Homo sapiens: one gene and its partner. The protein of the gene in region 2 interacts with the protein of the main gene of each other region in a pairwise test. Each region holds a gene or a part of one and is shown on either strand. Other genes may lie near its edges.

The links.
Region 1: the proteins of LCA5L (region 2) and KRT80 interact in binary tests that used the Homo sapiens proteins (3 or more experiments, as listed by UniProt).

Annotation. Positions count from the first base shown.
Region 1 is NC_000012.12:52,179,137-52,190,373, forward strand, and holds part of KRT80 (keratin, type II cytoskeletal 80), read right to left. Parts: intron 6,614-11,237; exon of another isoform or gene 6,563-6,613; coding exon of another isoform or gene 6,452-6,562; coding exon 6,243-6,451; intron 1,828-6,242; coding exon 1,767-1,827; coding exon of another isoform or gene 1,473-1,766; coding exon 1,377-1,472; intron 1-1,376.
Region 2 is NC_000021.9:39,432,841-39,444,077, forward strand, and holds part of LCA5L (lebercilin-like protein), read right to left. Parts: intron 6,934-11,237; exon of another isoform or gene 6,794-6,933; intron 5,879-6,793; exon of another isoform or gene 5,844-5,878; intron 3,328-5,843; exon of another isoform or gene 3,257-3,327; intron 2,734-3,256; 5' UTR 2,580-2,733; intron 1-2,579.

The DNA of each region.
Region 1 (11,237 bases), on a different chromosome or scaffold from region 2:
CATCTAGGCTCGGCAGAATCTGCACTCACCCATGGACTCAGCCTCTCAGAGGCAGTATGAGTGGGTGGAGGCCTAAGGGTGGCAGAGATCCAGCCCAGTGGAGACAGGAGATGGCCCTGCTGATGCCAGCCTGGGCTGCACCAGCCCACAGTGAGTTTGGGCAGAGAAGCCCCTAGCCCAGTTCCCACCCAGCCAGTGGGCATGGTGCCCTGGTCAGCCCCATAGCACTTGGCCTGGCTGTGGGGGGATTTGTTAGGGCCAGGAAGCTTTTCAGGGCTGTGGGGAGAGCGGACTGCCTAGGAGGGCTGCCTTCCTGCTGCTCCCAAGGGTTTGCTGTTCTCTCTGCTATGCTACCTCTCGTGGCCACAAACAAGACTCAGTTCCACGGAGGCCCCAGCTGGCAGCTGGGACTGCTGGAAAGGACTGTGACCCATGACAGGGCCATGAGGCCCGGTCTTCCTTTCCACAGGATGCAGCCATGAAGCTGTGGTCAGCAGATCATAGGGCCATTTTAGCAGAATCTGTAAGTTGTGGTGGTGACTTTGATCTCAGCCTTGACCTTGGCTGCACTGCCATAGCTTGGCACCAGCAGTGTGCAGCACTTAGGCGGGCAAGCCCTGTTATCTCCAACAGTGGTGCTGCCTGCTCCTAGCTGAACTGCAGACCTCTGTGGAAGGGACTTTAGCTCAGGAGTGTCACCCCTGAACCTCCTCACCCTTGAAACAAGTGGTGTGGAGAGGAGGACACATATCCTGAAGGGTGCCTAGGAGTCAGCAGCTGGCATGGAGGAGTGGTGTCCAGAAGCCAGCGGCAGTGCCCATCTAATGGCTGTGTTGATGCATGCCATGCTGTTATGGGCCCTTGTACACTGGGCCCCACTGAGGACTTAGGAAACAAATGCGAATGTTTCCTCTGTCTTCGCCAAAAATGGGGAAAACGGAAAGGCAGGCCTATCAGAACTAGCACTGTGGGTGCTGTGGTTTAGGCTGCAGGAATTAGGGAGAGATCAGTTCAATCAGCATGCTCGTTCCAGACCCCTGGGTTCCATGCCACTGAGGCCAGCCTCCTGACCCTTGTCCGAGGCACCTGGTCCCCAGCATGCCCTCAGTACTCTAGCACACAAAGGTATAGTTCTTCCAGAAAGAGTGGCCTTTGGGGAACCAGCCCATGTTCCATGAGATGAATGTCCAGGGGTCATGCAGGGTTATTGACACCATCACAGGAAGGGGTTTAGGAAATTATTATTCTGGGGCTGGAAATTGTAAGTGACTGTTGGAGGTTCCATGCCCCACTGGATGGCTGTGCTTCCCCTGTGTCCTTTACCCATGGACCAGCCAGCTCTGGGCTTGGCAAGACACTGGCCCCATCTCACTCACCTGCTCATAGATGGTTTTCATCAACTCCACGAAGCTCTCCAGGCTTTTTAACTTGGTTTCCAGTTCAGTCCGATGAAGACACTCTGCATCCAGGTCCTGGGGTTGGCAGCAGTGGTGAGTGGTGGGAGAGGGAATGGAGGGTCCCAGGGCAGGAGTGGGCTGGGGGGCTGCCTCCTGGGTGAGAGTGGGGGTGATTCCAGAGGAGATCTGGCTCAGAGCCTCGAAAAAGGAGCTGGATGGGGATGGGGGTATCTCCCTGTCTGTCTGTTGGTCCTGGGACTTAAGCCTCTGAGGGCTTTGATTGGGCATAAAGGAGAGTAGGATATCTGGAGGGAAAGAGGGCCCAGGGCCCATGAGGAAGGAGCCCCTGGGGCAGGCTGGGCAGGCTACCTTCTTCAGCTGAACAAAGGTGAACTCCATGTCTGTGCGCTTGGAGATCTCATCCTCATACCTGGGAGGGAGAGAGGGGTTGCTCAGCTGGATATGGTGGGGGCTTGGGCCTGGTGAACTCCCCTTGGTTGGGGCTCAGGGCCTGTGCTATCCCACTTGGGGTCTCTTTGCCAATTAAAGAAAAGCAGCCCATCCTTCTCCCTCTTGCATCTTCTATGACACATCCTCTCTCTCTCCCCCCGACCTCCTGGCATTGGCTCCCCGTTCCTCACTCCCTCCTGATGACACAGTCCTCTCCCAGTGGCTTCTGCCCTTTCCTGGCTCTGCTCCACACCCACTCCCCTCCAGGAGGCCTCCCTGATTGTGCAGCCCCTCACCCTGGCACTTTATCCCCTCATCTTTACCTGACCTCCTTCCCTGGCAATCTCAGGTTCACTCAAGTCCGCTGGGAGCATCTTGCTCACACCTCACCTCTCCCACCTCCATGCCTTCCCTGCAGCCCCAGCCACCACCCCTCTGCTTTGCGAGCCAGTAGGACACCATCCCATTGTATTCCCTCCAAAGGGAGGCTGGAAAGAGTGTGAACTTTGCTGTCAGAGGGACCCCCAGTGTGTTTTTGGGCAAGTTGCATCACCCCTCCTCTCTTGGCTTCCTGCCTCTAAGGGGTAGGCATGTGCCCACGTGTACAGGGGGCTGACAAACCCACCCCTGACGCAGTTGACAGCCAGCTACAGGCCGCATAGGCCATACTCAACAAAGCTCAATAACGCTCTTCTCAGTTTGGACTTCTTACTCGCTCCCACCTTGGGTTTGGAACAAGGACACCGTTGGGTGGGGAGGACAGGACCCCCAGATCCCTGGCCCGACCCTCTTCCTCAAGTCAAGACATTTGTTTGTCTTAGCCCCAGGGTGGGTGTCTGCTGGCTCCAGACTTCTCGCTGGCCCCAGCTGCTGTGGGGATTCAGCAGCTTCTGTTTTTTTCCCTCCTATTCGGGGAATGCCTGAATCACTGGCGGCTCTAATTACAGCCGCCTGCCTACCTCAGGCCCTAGCCTCCCAGCAGGGCTGCGTCACTCATCACCCATTGAGCTGGCTATATCTGGCGCCCCTCATGCCTTCTTCTTTCCCACCAGCCCACCTGAGGAGCTGAGGGGCGTGGACCCAATGGCAGGGCACGTGGGTTTCTGGTCTCAGTGTACCAGGGGCCCACACCCTCCCTGGCCACTGCCTTGGCTGCCAAGAGTCTGTTAGGGGCTTTGATGGTACAGGTCCTGGGGGTGGGGCAGAGGAGCAGGCCGGGGAGAACGTTCTGCTGTCTAGGCATCCCCAGAGAGAACTAAATTGGACTTGAGTGGGGAATAACAGGTGCTGAGTGCTTCACCTGCACTCTCTCTGGTGGTCCTCAGAGCACCCAGCTAGGGAAGTCCCATTGGTCTCATTTTACAGATGAGGAAATGGAGGCTCAAGGAAGGACTGGGGGCTCCTGGAGTGTGCTGATGAAGCAAGGGGACCAGAGCCAGGCTACTTGGGCTGAAATCCTGGCTTCCTTGCTAACCAGCTGTGTCCTGGGGTGAGTTCCTGTGTGCCTCAGCCACGATTATAGTGATGCTGTGACGATTAAATGGGGGCAATTCACAGAGTGCTTGCAGCGGGGGACAGCACCTGCTGGGGCTCAGCCCCTCTGCTTCGGCCTCAGGAAGCCTCTTGGCACAGCACAGGTGCCTCTCTGCCACTCACCCTGCCTAGGGGAACATAAGTAGGGTGAGTTGAGGGAGACAGCTGGCCTGGCAGCTGCCCTGGGAAACCCCCTCTGGCAGAGAAGGACACCAGGAGTCAGGGGACTGGAGGGAGCATCCTCACGGTATCCTGGCTAGGCCAGGTCTGCCTTGACCCTGGACCTCTAGGTGTGCTTTGTGGGTGGGGTGGGAATAAGCCCTGAGCCCCAGGGGAGAGGACCGAGGGGAACGCTGGGCTGCGGCTGGACACTGGGTTCCAGTCTGCAGCCAGTCCCCTTAAGACCAATACTGTTTCATCTCCAGCCTTTGTGCCAGTTAGAAAAAAGCCCCCTTCCTCACGGGCTGTTTGACCTGGTACCCTGCATGGCCTGATGCTTGTTTGGATTTCAGTCCCTATCCACCGCCTGAATCATGCACACTTGTGCAGCGCACAGTTTGCACAGCTGTATGTGGCATCCCTGAGTCACTTGCTGTGTGGCCTTGGGCAAGTTGCTTCCCCTTGCTGGGCCTCTGCTTTGTTCTTAGTAAATAGAGGGCTAGACTGCTGATCCTTGGGGTTTCTGCTACCTCAAAGCCTTCGGAAGTCTCCATCCCCATAGAGGCTTAGGTCCCCTATTCCACTCCCAATCCTCTGCCAGTCTGTCAGCCACCAGCTCCCAAACCCATTCTCAGGCATTTTTTAGCTTGTCACACCTGCACCACCATCCCCACCCCCGCAACTTGTTTATTTCTGGGAGTGAGGCTGATCTCATCGGCTCCGTAGAGACAGGGCACAGCCCTTCCCTACTGGGGCTTGGCCTGGCGTCTCCTGGCTCCTGGGGGCCCTAGGCTCTGCACAGTCAGGCTGTAGCTCCCCTGGCTCTGGCCTGAAGACCGAGAAGCCCTCCAGCCAGGCTGTTTGCCCAGTCTCTCCTTCCCAACTCGGGTGGGTTCCCTACCCAGAGAGAGGAAGAGAGGCTCAGCCTAAGCAGTAGAGTCAGGTAGCAGGCGGATAGAAACCAGGCGGCAGGCCAAATGAGGGGGCTGAGCCAGATTAAAACAACAGGTAGTGTGTGTATAGAACTTCCAGTTACAAAGTGCTTCCATGGACGTGATCTGGCGGAGCTCGTGGGAGCAGCCTTACCCAGTGGCTGGCTGGGGTTAGGGATGGGACTTAGCATGCAAGGCTGTGTAACTGAGGACAAGCCCTGCCCTTTCAGGGCCTGTTTCCTTCCCTGTAAAAGGAGGATCCAGGGCTCCCTCTGGCTCTGGCATTCTCTGAGCCTTTGAGGGCCAAAGATCTACTGGGGATCAGGAAAGTGGGTCACAGATTCTGGTGAGCTGCCCCGACTGCCCGGTCATGGTCAGGTACTAGGAAGCTGGGTCTCTCCGGAGGGGCGGTCAGATGCCCTGTGTGTGTTTCCCTAGGCCTGGGAGGGCAGGGCTGGGGAGAGGCGATGGGTAAACTCAGCTACAGCCCAGGTCTCTGGACTCCTGGACAGGACAGGTGCTCTCCACTCTCCAGCCTGCCTGGACGGCTGCTCTGGAGGTTGTGGGTCTCACCTCAGATTGGCAGGGTTTGGGGCTGGGCCGCAGCACTGCAGGAGGGGAGACCAAGGGTTCAGCCTGCCCTGTCCTCCCCTCACGCTGGCTGGAGGTCTCCTTGCAAGGAGACCAGACCCAAGGAGGTCGGTGCAGGGCACAGCCACTCTCCTCTGCCCCAGGCTCCTTGTTCCTGAAGCCCTGCCCACTACCTGACCACAGAGGGTCACCTCTCCTCTAAGCAGCCCGAGTGACCAGCCTTCCCTTTTAGACTGGCCAATTCAGTTCAGCAAACCTGTGTCAAAGACCTGCTGTGTGCTGAGAACTTCAGCCTTTTAGGGATAGAAAAGCTGCCATTTATAACTGCCAGTCACCATGCCACACTCTCAACTTCCTCCTCAGGTTAGATACCTACTTTAGATTGGCATCAACCATAATCATTCCCGTTTCACACAGGAAGAAACTGAGGTTCAGATATTAAGCCACTTACTGGAGGTCACAAAGCTAGTGATGGGTGATGATGAAGATTAAACCTCATTCTGGGCTAATGCCCAAGCCTGGGCCCATAAATGCTGGGATATACTGCCCAGCAACTGTTTGTCTGTCTGTCTGTCTGCCCCACTAAGTTGTAAAGGCACCTTGCATACTGGGGCTGTTTTCCTTATCTGTCTCTTTCCAAGTCTACCTTGATGTCTGGCATGCATTGCTTCTTTATTCAAATCAAACCCATTCTTTCCATCCCCTTCCTGCTTCCTGGTGGCTTTCCTCTCCTTTCCAACCCAGTCGAGATCAAAATCTAAAGCCACATCTAAAACAGAAACCCATCTGTTCTAGCTAGTGACGTAATTTCCCATTGCCAGAGCAACATGTGGACAAGAGCAAGTGTGTCCATAGGTACAAGAGGACGGCTGCTCGAGGCAGGGGGTGCGGGTTATGATGATGCCCAAGGGCCAGCAGGCACAGGGTTTAGCTGGGAGCCAGCACAAGATTGACTTTGTTTTAAGGGTTGCTATTAGGGAGGGGGCGGCTGTAGGTTCACAGCCATATCCTCAGTATTTAGAATACTGCCTGGCACATACCAGTCCCTCAATAAATGTCTCAGGTAAAGAAATGTTGCAGAACATCTTTCCTCTTTCTCTGGCTTAAGTGCCTCCCATCTGAGCACAGCTTGGTCCCAGCCCTCAGGCCTTGCTCATGGCTCTCATGGGGCTCTACGTACCTGATTCGAAACTCCTCAACCTTCTCCAGCACCTGCAGCAGGTTGGCCTCCAGCTGCCCCCGCTCCTGGCTCACTTTGCGCAGTTCCTCCTGCAGCCGGCCCTGATATTCCTCATAGAGATGCCCGAGGTCGAAGATGGCTGAGTCCTGGCCCTGCAGGAAGCTCCAGCGTGTCTCCAGCAGCTGGTTGCGCTGTTCCAGGGCTTGCACCTGGGAGAGCAGGAAGGCGGCGAATGGGTCAGGTGTGGACCAGTCGGGGGCTGAGGCCCCGGGCTGACCAGCAAGAGCCCACGGAGGGCTCCCTGGGAAGTGGCAGCTCATTTATGCACACCACCCAGGGCGCTCACTCAGCAGAAAGCACCTCCAATGACTGATTGTTAAAACTGAAGATGGTGAGATAAGGACAGGATCAGAGCAAGGTGGAGCCAATTAGCAAAGGTTTCCAGGCGAGGGCAGGGCAGGGCTGGCAGAGGAAGGGGGTAAGAGGGTGTGAGAGTGCCAAGCATGCGACAGGCTCTCCATGCCTGCCTGGGGCTGGGGCGGGAGACCCCAGGGAACATGGGGTGTCAGAGGCCTATCTGCCCCCTTGCCACCACGACAAGTGTGGTCCCATCTTGTCCTGGAAACTCAGCAGGGTAGGGCCTGGTTAGTACTGTCCTTAAGTGCTCATCCTCTCGATGACAGAGGCTCCCTGAACCTCAGTTTCCCCAGCTAGAAGTTAGGAATGATAACACCTGCCTGCGCGGTCCTCTCCTTCCCTCCACCCTGTCCAGCCGAGCTCAGCCTGGGGCTCTCCCTGCCTCCTCCCCACCCTGCCTGTCCTCTCTATTCTCCTTCCCATCACCAGGCCCTCTGCTCTCCCCATTTGTTCTTCCAGCTCCCTCCTGCAGGAAGCTCTCTGTGACTCAGGTTGAAAGACTTCCCTCTTCCCTCCAGCACTGAGGCCTTCAGTTTAGCTGCTCCTCCTTTGTCCTGAGCCACTACTCTCCCCATGAGACTGTGGGGACACCTGGGGATGTGCTTTGGGATACGACAACAGCAGGTGCTCATGTGGCCCCTGCTGTGTGCCAGGCCTTGCTCTACATGCTTGACCCATGAAATCCCTGCAGCACCCCCATGGGTGGGTACTATTATAAGCTGTATTTTACAGATGAGGAAACCAGAGGTGATGGAACTTGCCCAAGGTCACAAAATTAGCAAGTGGCAGAGCCAGGCCTGGAATCCAGGAACTTTGGGTTTAGAACCTTTTAACCACTATGACACATGCGTCCTGTGTGTTGCTGGTCACTGTGGGCCCTGGGATCCCAGCTACCCTTCATGGGCTGGCTTCTGCCTCCAGTTAGGGACAGTTTTGCCTCGAGGTGAAACCCTGGGAGGGCTCTGAGCCCAGCTGCGCCTCTCAGACTCTGCCTACCATATGCCTCTTGCTGGGAGGGTCCTGCGCAGTCCTCTCCTTCCTTCTACCCAGTCCAGCCCAGCTCAGCTTGGGGCTCCCCCTGCCTCCCTCCTCCCCACCCTGGCTGTCCTCTCTACTCTCCTTCCCATCACCAGGTCCTCCTCTCCTCCCCATTTGTTCTTCCAGCTCCCTCCTGCAGGAAGCCCTCCATGACTCATATCTTGAAAGGCCCCCAGTTTACCTGTTTCTCATTTGTCCTGACCCACCACTTTCCCCATCACACTGGGAGCCATCTGCTCCCCCTTGGGGCCTCTCCTCCCTTGGTGCCAGGGATAGGCCATGAGGGCAGGCCATGAGGTTGGAGGCCTGGTTGGGGCCTGGCTCCCGTCAGTGTGGGTTGTTTGTCATGAGGATGTTTTGATAACCAGCCCAGTGATGCTCCCTATGGTCACAGGTGAGTAGCTGGGCCTTCTCCCACCACTGCCGGTGCTGCTGGCCCAGGCTCCCAGAATCGTAGCCTGCGAGAGCTGCCAGCAGCCTTTTGGATCAGCTGAGCTGGGCCCTTCATTTGCAGAGGAGGCAATGGAGGCCAGGGGTGTCAAGTGACTTCTCCAGGGTCACAAAGCAACTCGGTGGCCCAGCTTCCCAGAGAGCCCCATCTGATGGCCACTGCCCTCTCTGCACCTTCGTAGGCTCCCGAACGGTCAGGTGGGGCCAGCCCCTCTCTCTCTGCTCTGCTTCTTCAGGGTGTCCTTGTTTTTCCTGAAGTGCTCTGACGACCCTTCGACATTCACAGCAGACAACGCCAGCAGGAATACTGGATGATGGCGTTTGACGGTATTTGCGGGCTGCCATTCCCCTGCATATCTGTACTGGTAGGTTCTGCTTGAAGCCAACCTTAATCCTGCTCTCTGCTGTACTCACAGCCAAACAGGTTCAGTAGGGATGGAGGTCAAGAGGGTTTCTGCCCTGCCTTGTGAGTGTGAGAGGGAGCGTTGGGGGGGCAGGTATCTGCTCACCCCACCTTGCCTCCGTTTTGACAAGCAGGAGCCCCATGTTTACACTGAGGGTGGAGTGAGAGGAGAGATGTGAGGCTCCTTCCTCCACCCATGAGCAGCAGAGAAATCTTCACACCAGGAAGTTCTTCCTACAGTCTAACCTCAATTCCCTATGCTTCAGCACTAGCTCGCTGGGACATGGTGTGCGTTTGGCCGGCCAGTCCAGCTAGAAGGCATCTGTGGTCTTAGGGGATCAGGGACAGCCCCCTGTTTTCTGCTGCCCTTGGGGGAGTCTCTGGTTGTCTCAGTGGGCGGGGATGGAAATTCATTCCCCACTTGGGACCTTCCTTGCAGAAAGGCTCCTCCCTCTCAGAACAAGGACCTGGGGAGGGCTCATAATCCTGGTGCCCTGAGAGGTGCCAGGTTAATTGCCTCCAACCCAGGAAGACTGCCGAGCCTTCACCTCTGATTCCTCCTCTCTGTTCTGCCTGGCCCTCTGCCCTTAGATCATACAGTAGCAGCTGTAGCAGGGACCTCTCCATTTTACAGATGAAGAAACTGAAGCCCAGTTGAAAAGTAGGGCCAGGTTGGGGCTGAGGTTAGGGGAGAGGCATGTTGTTTTGTGGGGGAAACCGAGCAGCCTAAACTGGAACTCCTGGAGGGAGACAGGCCGGACATCCCAGAGGCTGCAGGTCTTACAGGGGAGTGCCTCTGGGCCACACAGGTAGTGTTCCTTAGCGGGGGCTGTTGAATCCCCGGCCTTCAGCCAGACATTGGCTTTAGCCAGGGAGCCTCAAAGACTCACGAGCAGTGGCTGGTTTGTGCTTTTCTGCATACAGGCAGGGGGAAGGCTGACTTCAGCTCTTCCAGAGGTCACACAGGCCTCGGTGAAGACATTGTCTCCATCCCTCTGTCTCCATCCCTCTGTCTCCAGGCATTTTACCACTGCTCATAGGTTCCCTCTCTACAGCCTCCCCAGGATGAGCTCAGGCAGTCCTGCCTCTTGCCTCTCTCTCCATCCCCTCTGTTGTCTGTGTGTGCGTGAAGGCAAGAAGCCCAGCCAGCAGCCTCTGCTGGAGGTCGGCCTTGCGCCCTCCCTGCCTCCCCTGGCCTCTCCTGCTGCTACTGCTTCTCCTCATCCCCCTTCATCTCATGACTGTTGCCTTACCAGTCCTTCCACTGGGACGAGCTCAGGACCACCGGCAGAGCAGAGCAGTGGAATCTGGGGCGCAGAGAGGGTAAATGACTTGCCCAGGAAAACGCAGCCAGCAAGTGGAAGAAACCACAGTGTTCCAGGGCCTCTACCACCTCCTGAGAGTCTCTGCTCCTCCTGAGTGCTCCCAGGTTCCTCTCAGTTCCTCAGAGGGCCCCCACCCCTCTCCTCTCTTTACCCAGAGCCCCCACCCACTGGTCATGGCGTCTCACCCCTGGGCCTTCCTCTGGGTCCATAATTGCTCAACAGCCCTGCGCCGTACCTCCTGCCCATGAGTCCCTTCACTCCTCTATCCGGCAGGGAGCCTCTCCCCACCTGCTCTCCAGGCTCCTGCCTGGAAGGGGCTAACTGGGTTCTAGCTGCTCCCTGGGCCAGGCCCATTTATTTCATTTTTTATTTAACAGTTATAATATACTTAATATATACCAGATATGTTCTAAATTCTTTTCAAAAATTCTCCCATTTGATTCTAATGAGCCTGCTAACCTAATGTGTGCTGAGGCACAGAGAGGTTAAATAACCTGCCTGAGACAACACAGCTGGTCAGTAGTGGACCGGGATTTAAACCCCACAATGCTGCTCCAGATTTCACATCTTAACCACTTCCTGCTTCCATGTGGGCCCTCACAGCCTCCACAAGGAGGCAAGGAGGGTGGGGCTAACAGATCTTTGCAGAGTTGAAGGGTCAGCTGGGGCCCCTTGGGGCCCTGCAACCAGGGCCCCCAAACGGCCAGTACCCACAGCTCCCTGTGTCCCACCCTGAAGGGCACCCCATCTCAAGGTCAAGGCTAAGGGTTGGGAGGCTCCAATTCTGCTAAAGAACTTCAAGGGCATTGCCCTGGTCTCTGGGCACAGGACCCCAACCCTGAGGGCCTCTTCCCTGTGCTTATATCCTCCCATCCCCATGGCAGGGGCACAGGGTGATATCAGTGCTGGCGTTTGAGGGAGAAAACCACCCATCTGAGCCAAATTCCATAGCTCAGTGAAGCATTCCTTCTAAGGGATTAAACTGGGTTTGGTCAGGAGGTGGCTCTTTAGGGACCTGCCTCCCCAGGGCAGCTGGGCTGCTCTTAGAGGGAGAACCAGCTCAGCAATGCAAGGCTCTGTGCAGTTAGGGCTGGGGGAAGGGATGCTCTGCCTCAGTGGACTGTGGTCCTTCCCCTCTGGGTACCCAGGGGTACCCCAGGTGTGGATGATGAAACTCTGGTCTAGGCACATGAATGGAAGAAGGAAAGAAAAGATTCCCACCACAGAGACCACTGACTTCGTGTCTCAACAGACCTGAGTTCAAATCCAGACTACCATTTGCTGGTTGTGTGATCTTGGGCAAGGCACTTAGCCTTGCTGGTCCTCAGTTTCCTCATCTGCACAGTTGGGAAAATAACAGCC
Region 2 (11,237 bases):
ATATCAGTAGTTCATTTGTTTTGTTTTTAAGTTGCTGAGTAGTTTCCAATTGTATGTATAAACCATAATTTGTTTATTCATCTGTTCACAGACATTTCAGCTATTTCCAGTTTTGGGCTATTACAAATAAAATTGCTGTGAATATTCTGGATATAAATCCTTTATCAGATATATGCTTTGCAAACATTTTCTCCTCATCTGTGATTTTTCATTCTCTTAAAAATGTCTTTTAAAGAGCAGACTGTTAATTTTGGTGAAGCCCAATTATCAATTTGTTCTTTGAAGAATGATCCTGGCCGGGCACGGTGGCTCATGCCTGTAATCCCAGCACTTTGGGAGGCCAAGACAGGCGGATTGCCTGAGGTCAGGAGTTCGTGACCAGCCTGGCCAACAAATTTAAACCCCATCTCTACCAAAAAATAAGAAAATTAGCTGGGCGTGGTGGCGGGCGCCTATAATCCCAGCTACTTGGGAGGCTGAGGCAGGAGAATTGCTTGAACCCAGGAGGTGGAGGTTGCAGTGAGCTGAGATTGCGCCATTGTACTCCAACCTGGGTGACAAGAAACTCTGTCTCAAAAAAAAAAAAAAAAAAAAAAAGATCCTTTTGGTGCTGTATCTAAGAAATTTTTGCATGACCTGAGGTCACAAAGATATCCTCCTTTCTTTCTTCTAGAAGTTTTACTTTAAATCTGTAATCCATTTTGAGTTACTTATTATGGATTAAAATTCATTTTTTGGTATATGGGCATCTAATTGCTTCAGCACCGTTTGTTGCAAAGACTATCCTTTTCCCACTCAATTGCCTTTGCATCTTTGTAAAAACCCAGATATTCATATGTTGATCTATTTCTGTGCTCTCTATACTGTTCTACTGATCTGTTTCTCTATATTCATACCAATACCACACTATTTTGGTTACTGTAGCTTTTTTTTTTTTTTTTTGAGAGAGGGTCTTCTTCTATTGCCCAGGCTGGAGTGCAGTGGCACGATCTTGGCTCACTGCAACCTCCACCTCCTGGGTTCAAGTGATCCTCCCTCCTCAGCCTCCCAAGTAGCTGGACTACAGGTCCATGCCACCACATCCAGCTTTTTTTTTTTTTTTTTTTTTTGTAGAGACAGAGTTTTGCCAATTCTCCTGCCTTGGCAGGGTAGGTAAATTTCCAAAAGAGTTACTTGTACATAAATTATACTCATCAAAGAGACAGGATATTCCTAGCATTCTGGAATTCCCAGGACTCCAGAACCATCCTAAAATTTCTACCTATATGACCTCAATACAGGTATGTTTGGGTTCACCTGGCACTGTGTGAGTTCTATTCTTTTCCATGAAATGGCGACTGAGAGACATTATCAGCAATGTAAACAAAAGTAAAACCCAGTTTGATTCTTGGCTATTACTATAGTTGGCAATGAATGTGTCCTGAATGCAGGTATCAAGTAGGATCATATATTCAGTCTGCTAAATACCAGTTTTCTCACTGACCTGTTAAAAATTGACTGATGACTAGTATCAGGCCTATAACTGTACTTTTAAGTTGATTAAACTATTTCAGAAATCTTCATATTAATATACATACACTACACTTCTCTATTGTTATCAATAAAAAGTGTAGTTTCCACATACAAATTTCTGATTATGTGGTGCATTTTTGAAAAATCCAGGCCTTAAACCAACCACCTACTGTTCTTTCTTTTGAGACGGGGTCTTACTCTGTTGCCTAGACTGGAGTGCAGTGGTGTGATCACAGCTCACTGCAGGCTTGACCTCCTAGGCTCAAGCAGTTCTCCCACCTCAGCCTTTCATTTAGCTGGGATTACAGGCACATACCACCATGCCTGGCTAATATTTTTAGTTTTTGAAGAGATAGGGTCTCACTATGTTGCCCAGGCTGGTCTTGAACTCCTAGGCTCAAGCAATCCTCCCATCTCAGCCTCTCAAAGTGCTAGGATTACAGGCATGACCCACCATGTCCGGCCACTGATGTTCTTAATTAATTAATATGTTCAGTCAAAGAACATTTATTTAGTGTCTTCCAGGGTCTGGGGTTATGAAGAAGGTAAGGCAAAAGGATCTTAAAATAGGCAAAGTTAGTAATTATAAAATTAATATCTACTATAGTTACACTAGTTTTTGTATCAAATTTACAGTATAGTTCAGATTTAGTTTGGCAGCATTTATATTTTGAACAGTTTACAGTATAGTGGTGCCTATTTTACTGCACATGAAGCATAATTTTATTATGTCTCTATCATTATGGAGTTTATAGTTGTTTCTTTGCTGTTATGACTCGGGAACACAATGAGTAATTATAAACACTATTCTAATGGAAAAAATCTGATCTGGTTGAGGTTACGTTTTCCCGGAATGCACTATGGTGAAAGGGATGGCTACTTAAAAGAACAGTAAACTTCTATATTATGCTTATCTAATTAGTGAATTAGAAATAAGAATGTTCAAGATCAAGGTATATGTCTGAATCATTCTGAATACAACGGTCAGGTGTCTTTTCTCCTGCTTTTGCAACAAGGCAGATGGAAAATAAAACACACTAAAATGTTTGAAAGTGATTACTGCATACCTGGTGTTCTTTATTAAACTTCCCTAAGATGTCTGATGATAAACTGAAGATAAGCACAGGGTTCTTCACACTGTAGTATTTATGAGCTTTCCACGGTAGTATTTTTTTGACAGGTTTTGGTCTCTTTTTAAAGAAAGAATATATTTTAAAAAACCTAAAATGGTATTACAAAAGGAAAATGTTACAATCTCACAAAGAAACATATTTATGTAATAAGAATAAGGTTTTGAAGCAGTTTTAATTAATATATATATATTCCCTTGTATTATGGATTGGTGTGGTCTTGGCTCACTGCAACCTCTGCCTCCCAGGTTCAAGCAATTCTCCTGCCTCAGCCTCCTGAGTAGCTGGGATTACAGGCGCCCGCCACCATGCCCGGCTAATTTTTTTGTATTTTTAGTACAGACGGGGTTTTACCATGTTGGCCAGGCTGGTCTCAAACTCCTGACCTCAAGTGATCTACTCACCTTGGCCTCCCAAAGTGCTGGGATTACAGGTGTGAGCTACTGCACCTGGCCACAGGCGGCTTTTTCTCTATGAAAGTGAATCACCTGTTGGCAGTTGATTGGGAAATTCTTGGATGTGATTATCAAACAGTGATGTTGAAGTAAGATTTGAAGGAGCCATACACAGCAGTGCCTTTTCAAGTTTTTGGCAGAAAAGATCTTGTGGCTCACCTGCCTGCTCTTTCTTTCCAGTACAGAGTTGAACATAAATAATTAAAGTTTTTGGATTATGTGTTTCTTGCCTGTCAACAATAAAAATAACAAAAAGACGACCCTCTTGGTAGCTAATTGTAAGCACTGGATTGTATTTTAGAAGCAGAGACAGTGACTGATTTAGTATTATATACTAAAATGTATTCTGGTTCCATACTTTCATGAATTATCAGATTCTTGGTTAATAATACAACTAGAAAATCCTAATTCTTAAAAGTAAATATTTTGTTACACGCATATAATGAAAAAAATTCAGTAGTAAATTTATAATTAATTCATAAGGATAATTTAATTCAAATGATTACATCTGTGTTTCTGGCTGAAATTATTCTATGGGTAGGTAATTACATACATATTTTTTGAGATGGAGTCTCACTGTGTCATCCAGGCTGGAGTGCAGTGGTGTTAGCTCAGCTCACTGCAGTCTCGACCTCCTGGGCTCACGCGATCCTCCTGCCTCAGCTTTTCAAGTAGCTGGGACTACAGGCATGTGTCACCATGCCCAACTAATTTTTTTATTTTTGCAGAGACGGGATTTTACTATGTTGCCCAGGCTGGTCTAGAACTCCTAGACTCAAGTGATCCACCTGCCTTGGCCTCCCAAAGTGCTGGGATTACAGGCATGATCCGGGCCACAGCACCCGGCCAGTAATTATATTCTTAACCAGTCCTGCCTCTTGGGAAAAAAAACTTACTCAGCATGCAAATTTTCCCTCTTTTCTTATCCATTCTCAACATTTCCTATTGCCTTCCCCATTTCATTTTTTCTCTTTAACACATACTATCTAACCTAACACCCATTTTACTTCCTCAGCCTGTTTGTAGCCTGGCTTCCCCACTAACTGCATGCTTCACAAGGCATGCATTCTGGCTCCTTTGTCTATTGCTATATCCTCAGTGCCTAGAGGAGTTCCTGAGAATATTAAGTGTCCAATAAATATTGATCAAATAAATTAATGTTCCGGATGCCTCTGTGCTTAATTCCTCTCTTCATATCCATTACTCCTGAAAAAACTTCTCATTACTGCTAACCCAATCTGAAAAGCTCCAAATGAAAGCTTTCCCAATGTGATAAATACCTATCTCAAACAAAAAAACAGCTTTAAGCTTAATGGTGAAACATTAATTTACACTGATGTAAGAATTAAGATAAGAAATGCCTACTATCACTGTTGTTCATTAATATTGTTCTGGAGGTACTAGGTCTAAATATTGGAAAAGAAGAGGCAAGTTATTATGTGGAAATGAAATGAAATGATTATATACTTATAAAACACTATCAAGAGAATTAAATTGACACCATAGGTTACAAAATGGCTATAAAATTAATCTTTTTTTTGAGACAGGGTCTCACTCCACTGCCCAGACTGGAGTGCAGTAGCGTGATCACAGCTCACTGCAGCCTCAACCTCCTGGGTTCAGGTGATCCTCCCACCTCAGTCTCCCGGGTAGCTGGGACTACAGGCACGTGCCACCATGCCTGGCCAAGTTTTTGTAGAGATGGGATTTCACCATGTTGCCCAGGCTAGTCTCAAACTCCTTGGCTCAAGAAATCTGCCCACTTTGGCCTCCCAAAGTGCTGGAATTATAGGTGTGCCTGGCCCTAAAAATAATCTTTCCTCTATGCAAAATAAAACGACTTAGAAAATAGATGAAACATACCCCACTTACTATATCCAAATATTTAAAACATCTAAGTTTACTACGAATAATATGAAGGAAACTTTAAAACTACTGAAATAAAATATTTAAGTGAAGGACACATTTTGTTCTTATATCAAAAGGACACAGATTATAAAGCTGTAAATTCTCCCTAATTTAATCTACATGATCAATGTATTCTCAATGAAATACTGAGTAATTTTGTGAAATTTGACCAAACGATACAAAATTCACATAGAGAAATAAATATGAAAGAATACAAAGAAATATGAACAAAAATGATGAGAAGGGACTACTTTGATCAGATACTGAGATAGAAAACTACAGTCACTAAAATAGCCTGATACTAATGCTTTGACAGAACAATATTCTGGAATAAAGAGTTCAGAAACAGAAACACAAACAAATACATATGGTAACCTAGTCTAAGATAAAGGTAGAGAAAGTGGACTTCAGTAAATGATGAGAGGTAGGCTAGAATCTACCTGGAAATCAAAACAAAAGCAGATTCTTATTGCATTTCTTACACTAAAATGACGGTTAGATGGGTTCAAAATGTAAATGTTTAAAAAATTATTAAAAGAAAACACAGAGTGTGGAAAAACATAAAGCCTAGAACCATAAAGGAAACAACTGATAAAAATAACTGCATAAAAATATAAAACTTCCTTATAATTAAAAAAATAATAAAGTTCAAAGGCATCTTACAAACTGGAAAAAAGATTTTCAATACATATGACAAAGACCTAATTTCCTTAATTTGCAGAGACCTCTTAAAATAATCCATTAGTAAAATGGGCAAAAGATATGAATGCATTACAGCATAAACACATTACAGAAACACAGAAAACCAAGAGTTATATAAAAAGATGTTCGAACTTACTCATAATGAAATGCAAATTAGATTCCGCTTTTCATCTACCAGAATGGCAAAAATTAAAGAATCAGATAAAACATATTATTGTTATTATAACTGTGATGAATACTGATAATGCATATTATAAAAAATAAAGCATATCTGTGTATGTGTAGATATGTAAAGTTCTCTAAGATACGTTCATTTTCCAATCAATGTCTACATGTAAAATAGAGTTAAATTCTCATTTTTAAGATTTAAGACTTTCATTTGGTACAGTGGTAGGCTGAATAATGGTCCCCTAAGGATGTCCATGTCCTAATCCCTAGAACCTGTGTTACTATATATAGCAAAAGGGACTTTGCAGATGTGATCAGTTTCAGGTCTTGAGGTGGGAAGATTATCTTGAGTTATCCCAGATTATCCATGTGGACCTAATGTAATCACATGGGCCTGTCTAAGAAGGACACAGGAGGGGTCAGAGTGAGAAGGCTCTGTGATCACAGAAGCAGAGTCAGAGGGAGAAGACACGACGCTGCTGGCTTTCAAGATGGAAGAAGGGGTCACATGCCACAGAATACAGGCTTTTCTAGAAGTTAGAAAAGGGAAGGGAATGATCCTCCCTTGGATCCTCTAGAAGGAATCAGTCCTGCTGACATCCTAACTTTAGCCCCTTAAGACTCATTTCAGACTTCTGACCTCCAGAGCTGTAAGAAAATAAATTTGTTTGAAGCCACTGAGTTTGTGGTAATTTGTTATAGCAGCAATACAGAACTAATACAGGTACCTTGAAAAACATCACAAATTAAAATGAGACTAAAAGCAGGCTATTAAATGCAAATGAATTGCACTGTTATAAATTTCAAGAAGTCAGAGAAGATGGTGAGTTCAAACGTTTTGGGGAAATATCTTAATTGTTCCAGAAACCAGCTTGCTTTACCTTGCCTTGGACTATATCTAGGAACAAGATGACCAACCTGAGATAGCTGGTGGGATTGTTTGCTTTGGAAAAATGAGCTGGAGAAAACAGCCGACCCTCTCATAAGCACTCCATGAAGACTTTTTTTTAAAGCAGGTGGCTTTCCTGCAGAGGCAGTGGCAGAAGCATGGCTGAAGGCTGAGAAAGCAGAGTGAAGTAGTTGTAAGGGGGAGGAGTGACAAAGAGGCGTCAGGTAGCTGGCAAAGTTAGGAAATTAATTAGAGCTAACAAATTAACTGAGGACATAAGTAAATATATTTAGAATCATGGGGTCAAATTTCTTACTGTCTGAAAGAGGGAAGGCTGGAAAGAACCCTGAAATGTTGGATTAGAATGAGAAATGCTAGGTTCAAATACACACACATACACACACAAGGAGTTATATACAGTTACAGATCTATGTGCATATATATCTATAAATGTATGTGTATGTGTATATACATATGTATGTATATGTGTGCGTGTATTTTTCCCCTAACTCTGCTGAGAGGGCCTAGAATCAACGACACCCCAGAAACAATGAGTACACTGTGTACCATTCTCCACTAAATACCATTCTCTGCTATAATGAATTGGGGTTCCTTGGAGAAATGGATGATCCTAAGCCTGAGGCAGGCAAAGAGAAGAAAGGCTGGTGTGTATCAAAAGGGCACAGGAGCCAGCTTTAAGAAGCTCCCACTAGTCAAAGATAGGGCAATTTGAACATCAATACCAATAAGGAGGATACATCAGCCTGAGCAACACAGGGAGATGCCATCTCTATAAAAAACAAAACAAAACAAATTAGCTGGGTGTGGTGGTACACACCTATGGTCCCAGCTACTTGGGAGGCTGAGGCTGCAGTGAATTTGATCATGCCAACACTGCACTCCAGCCCGGACAAGAGTGAGACCCTGTCTCAAAAAAAAACAAAACAAAATGGGATTTACCACGTCAGAGTATCTCTTCCCAAAGCACTAATCAAATGCAAAGGGAAAACAGGTGGCTGTGGAGAAAACTGGCAGATTTGTGCTTGAACAGGTAATCAAGGTTCATGTCACCAGGGTGGGACAGGTGACATTCACTAGTGTCCATGGGCACTTGAGAAGATCACAGCACCACTTCTGTGGTCTTTCTGCCACAAGCACAGCCTGTCTGGTTAGAAAAAAACATCAGCCAGACCCAAGTTCAGGGTCTTCCTATTGAATGAAAGGCTTAAACTCTAAACTCTTTGACAAAAATGTTAAATGAACAGAAAAGCTCTTCTCTAAGCTTATAAATGTGGTATTATATAGCTAAGATAATCAATATCTTACGGTTTTCAAGAACATTATTTCAAACACTTTATCTACTTTTATGTGTCCCAATTTTTTGCTTCAGAAATTTTGCGAGTCACTCTAAACATTGACAAAGGGAGGTTATGATTCTTAACACTGATTGGCCTGGCGTGGTGGCTCACACCTGTAATCCCAGCACTTTGGGAGGCTGAGGTGGGCAGATCACTTGGGCCCGGGAGTTTGAGAGCAGCCTGGGCAACATGGTGAGACCCTGTTCCTAAAAAAAAATTAGCCGGGTGTGACAGTCCCAGCCACTCAGGAGGCTGAGCCCAGGAAGTCAAGGCCGCAGTGATGCAGTGAGCTGTGATCGCACAACTACATTCCAGCCTGAGGGATGGAGTGGGACCCTGTTTCAAAACCAAAAAAAACCAAACGAACAAAACACTGATTGAGAGGCAGTATACTGTGGAAGAAAAAAGGTATGTTCCCAGTTCTGCCAATACAACTAGCTATTAGGCCTCAAATGTCTAAGGCAAGAAATTAGGTGATTTCTCAGTGACATATAAGGTCCAGTCTAGCACTAAAATCCATAAATGAAATATACCTATATATATAAGCAATTTCAAGTTTATTTGATAACATGAAAATGTGCCACGTTCAAAGTTTGGATGGTTACAGACTAGCTATGCTATGTAGGTTTTGGTAATTTAACAACTTTATATATTTTAGAACAAATGTTTGAATTCACTACCCGACTGACACCCTAGTCACCTTCAGGATAAGAACCCGTGCCTCTCTACTTCCACCAAGTGGTGGCAAGTGCAATGTACTGCACTGAGTAAAGGGCTACAAATCTTTACACAAGTACCCGTTTTTAGCTACCCTGACACAACATTCTTTTTAATTTTCAGTGTTTGCCTGATTATTTTTACTAGATTTTCATTCTATTTTAATAGAATTGTATTAAAACACACGGCGCTTAGTATCTCTTACATATTAGAATGTTCATTTCATTCATTCTTTCAGCACCCATTTGAGTGCTTACTATGTGCCAGGCACTATGTGGGGTGTGGAGATACAATGATGAACACAAACAGCAAATGTTTCTATTTTTGTGGGCCTTATGTCAGTAATGAACTAATCATAATAGTGACTGTCCAGAGTGTCTTCAAGGAAGGAGATACAACTCTGTGAAGATAAAGAAACCTGATCCTGACAGCGATCAGGGAAGTTATCCCTGTAGAAGTACTGTCTGAGTTGAGATAGGAAGGGTCAGTGGGAACTAATTAGGCAAGAGAGGATGAGAGGGAGGAGGGAAAAACAATGCAGACAGAGAGGAAAGAATGCCAAGGCCTGGTGGGTGGAGGAGGCCCATGTGGCTGAAGCCCAGTGAGAAGGGCCAGCGGTTTCAGATGAGTCTTGAGACGCAGGCGGGGGTGAACAGCTGCAGGGCCTTCGGAAGGCGTGTTTATGATGTGGATCATTAATCCAAGGGCAATGGGAAGCTAACTGTAGGCAAAAGAGGGAGGCGGGAGGGGTGGCATAATCAGCTCTGCCTTCTGAAGGTTACTCTGGCTGCAGGGTGAAGAATCGAGAAAAGCCAGAGGGAATGTGGGGAGACAAGCTGGTACAGGACTGCGGCAGGCTGAATGAAGGTGGTGGTTTGCACTTGGGTGTCCACGACAATGAAGAGATGTGAAAGATGCCCAGGAGACAACCTCACCTGGGCTTAAGGATTCACTGGGTGTTGGGGTGTGATAAGGGTCAAGGAGGAATCCTAGGTACAACGGAAGAGGTTCCAGCTGGGGTTGGGAAGTGGGGTTGTTTGGTTTTGTGCATGTTGAATTGGAGGAGACTGAGTGGTATTAAGAAACACTGTCACGCAGCTAGCTGAACGTACGAGTCTAGCTGAGAAAGGGTCAAGTTGGAGAAAGGTAGGAGTCAAGAGCACAGGGCTGGAACTTAAAAGCTGTGCGTGTGAATCTGTGCCTTGTGCTAGATGAAGGGGCGCAATGGAGAATAAAATGGGAACAGATGCCGAGCTTTGAGAATCTCCAATATTAAGGAGCCTGGGAGAGGAGGGTGAGCCAGAATGGCAGCAGGAAAAGCAGAAGAGTCAGGGATGGTCACAGAAGCCAAGGGAAGACAGTGTTTGTAGAGTGAAATGGGGGCAGCAGTTTCAGATGCCGCTGAGAGATTGAGCAAGACAAAGCCTGAAAAAGTCTCATTCCTGGTTTTTGTTTTAGCAGAGATGAAGAGGGAAGCCATACTGGCTGAGGAGTGAGAGACAAATAATAGAGGCATTGAATATGGCAGTTCTTTAAAGTTTGCCTGTCGAAAGGGATAAGGGATTGGACAATAACTGGAAACTGAAGGGGAACGTGGGGTCAAAGAAGATTCTTTTTTTCTCTTTTGTGATGGGAGACTTGAACATGCTTCAAAACCATGGCAAAGAGCCAGCTGAGATGGAACAGGTGATCATACAGGAGAGGGAATGTATACCTGACAGGGTAGAGTTTTTGGCGAGTGGAAAGCGATGGGATCCAAAGCACGGAGAGGGAGTGGCCTTGGTTAGGAGGAGGAAGGAAGGTAGGAACAGATATAAGTAAGGCTTGCAGTTTTGGGAGCTGAAGAATGAGGGGATTCCCATGTGACAGCTTCAAGCTTCTCTATGAAGTGACAGCACAAGGGCGTGGTGGGAGATCAAATCTGAGGAAAATGGTCATTTATGAAATGCAATCTCCTACAGACCCTCAGCTAACCGTGGCAATCCTACTCTGTTACTTTGGTTAATTGGGGTTTTACCTGATGGCAAAAGAGAAAAGATGGGGCTAGGAGTTTAAGAGAGTGGCAAGGGTAGGGCCGGGCGCAGTGGCTCACGCCTTTAATCCCAGCACTTTGGAAGGCCGAGGCAGGCAGATTACCTGAGGTCAGGAGTTTGAGACCAGCCTGGCCAACATGGTGAAACCCCATCTCTACTAAAAATACAAAAATTAGCTGGGCATGGTGGCGTACACCTGTAATCCCAGCTACTCAGGCCGAGGCAGGAGAATTGCTTGAGCCCAGAGATGGAGGTTGCAGTGAGCCGAGATCTTGCCACTGCACTCCAGCCTGGCCGACAGAGTAAGGCTCTGTCTTAAAAAAAAAAAAAACAACAAAAAAAGAGAGATTGGCTAGGGGCCTTAG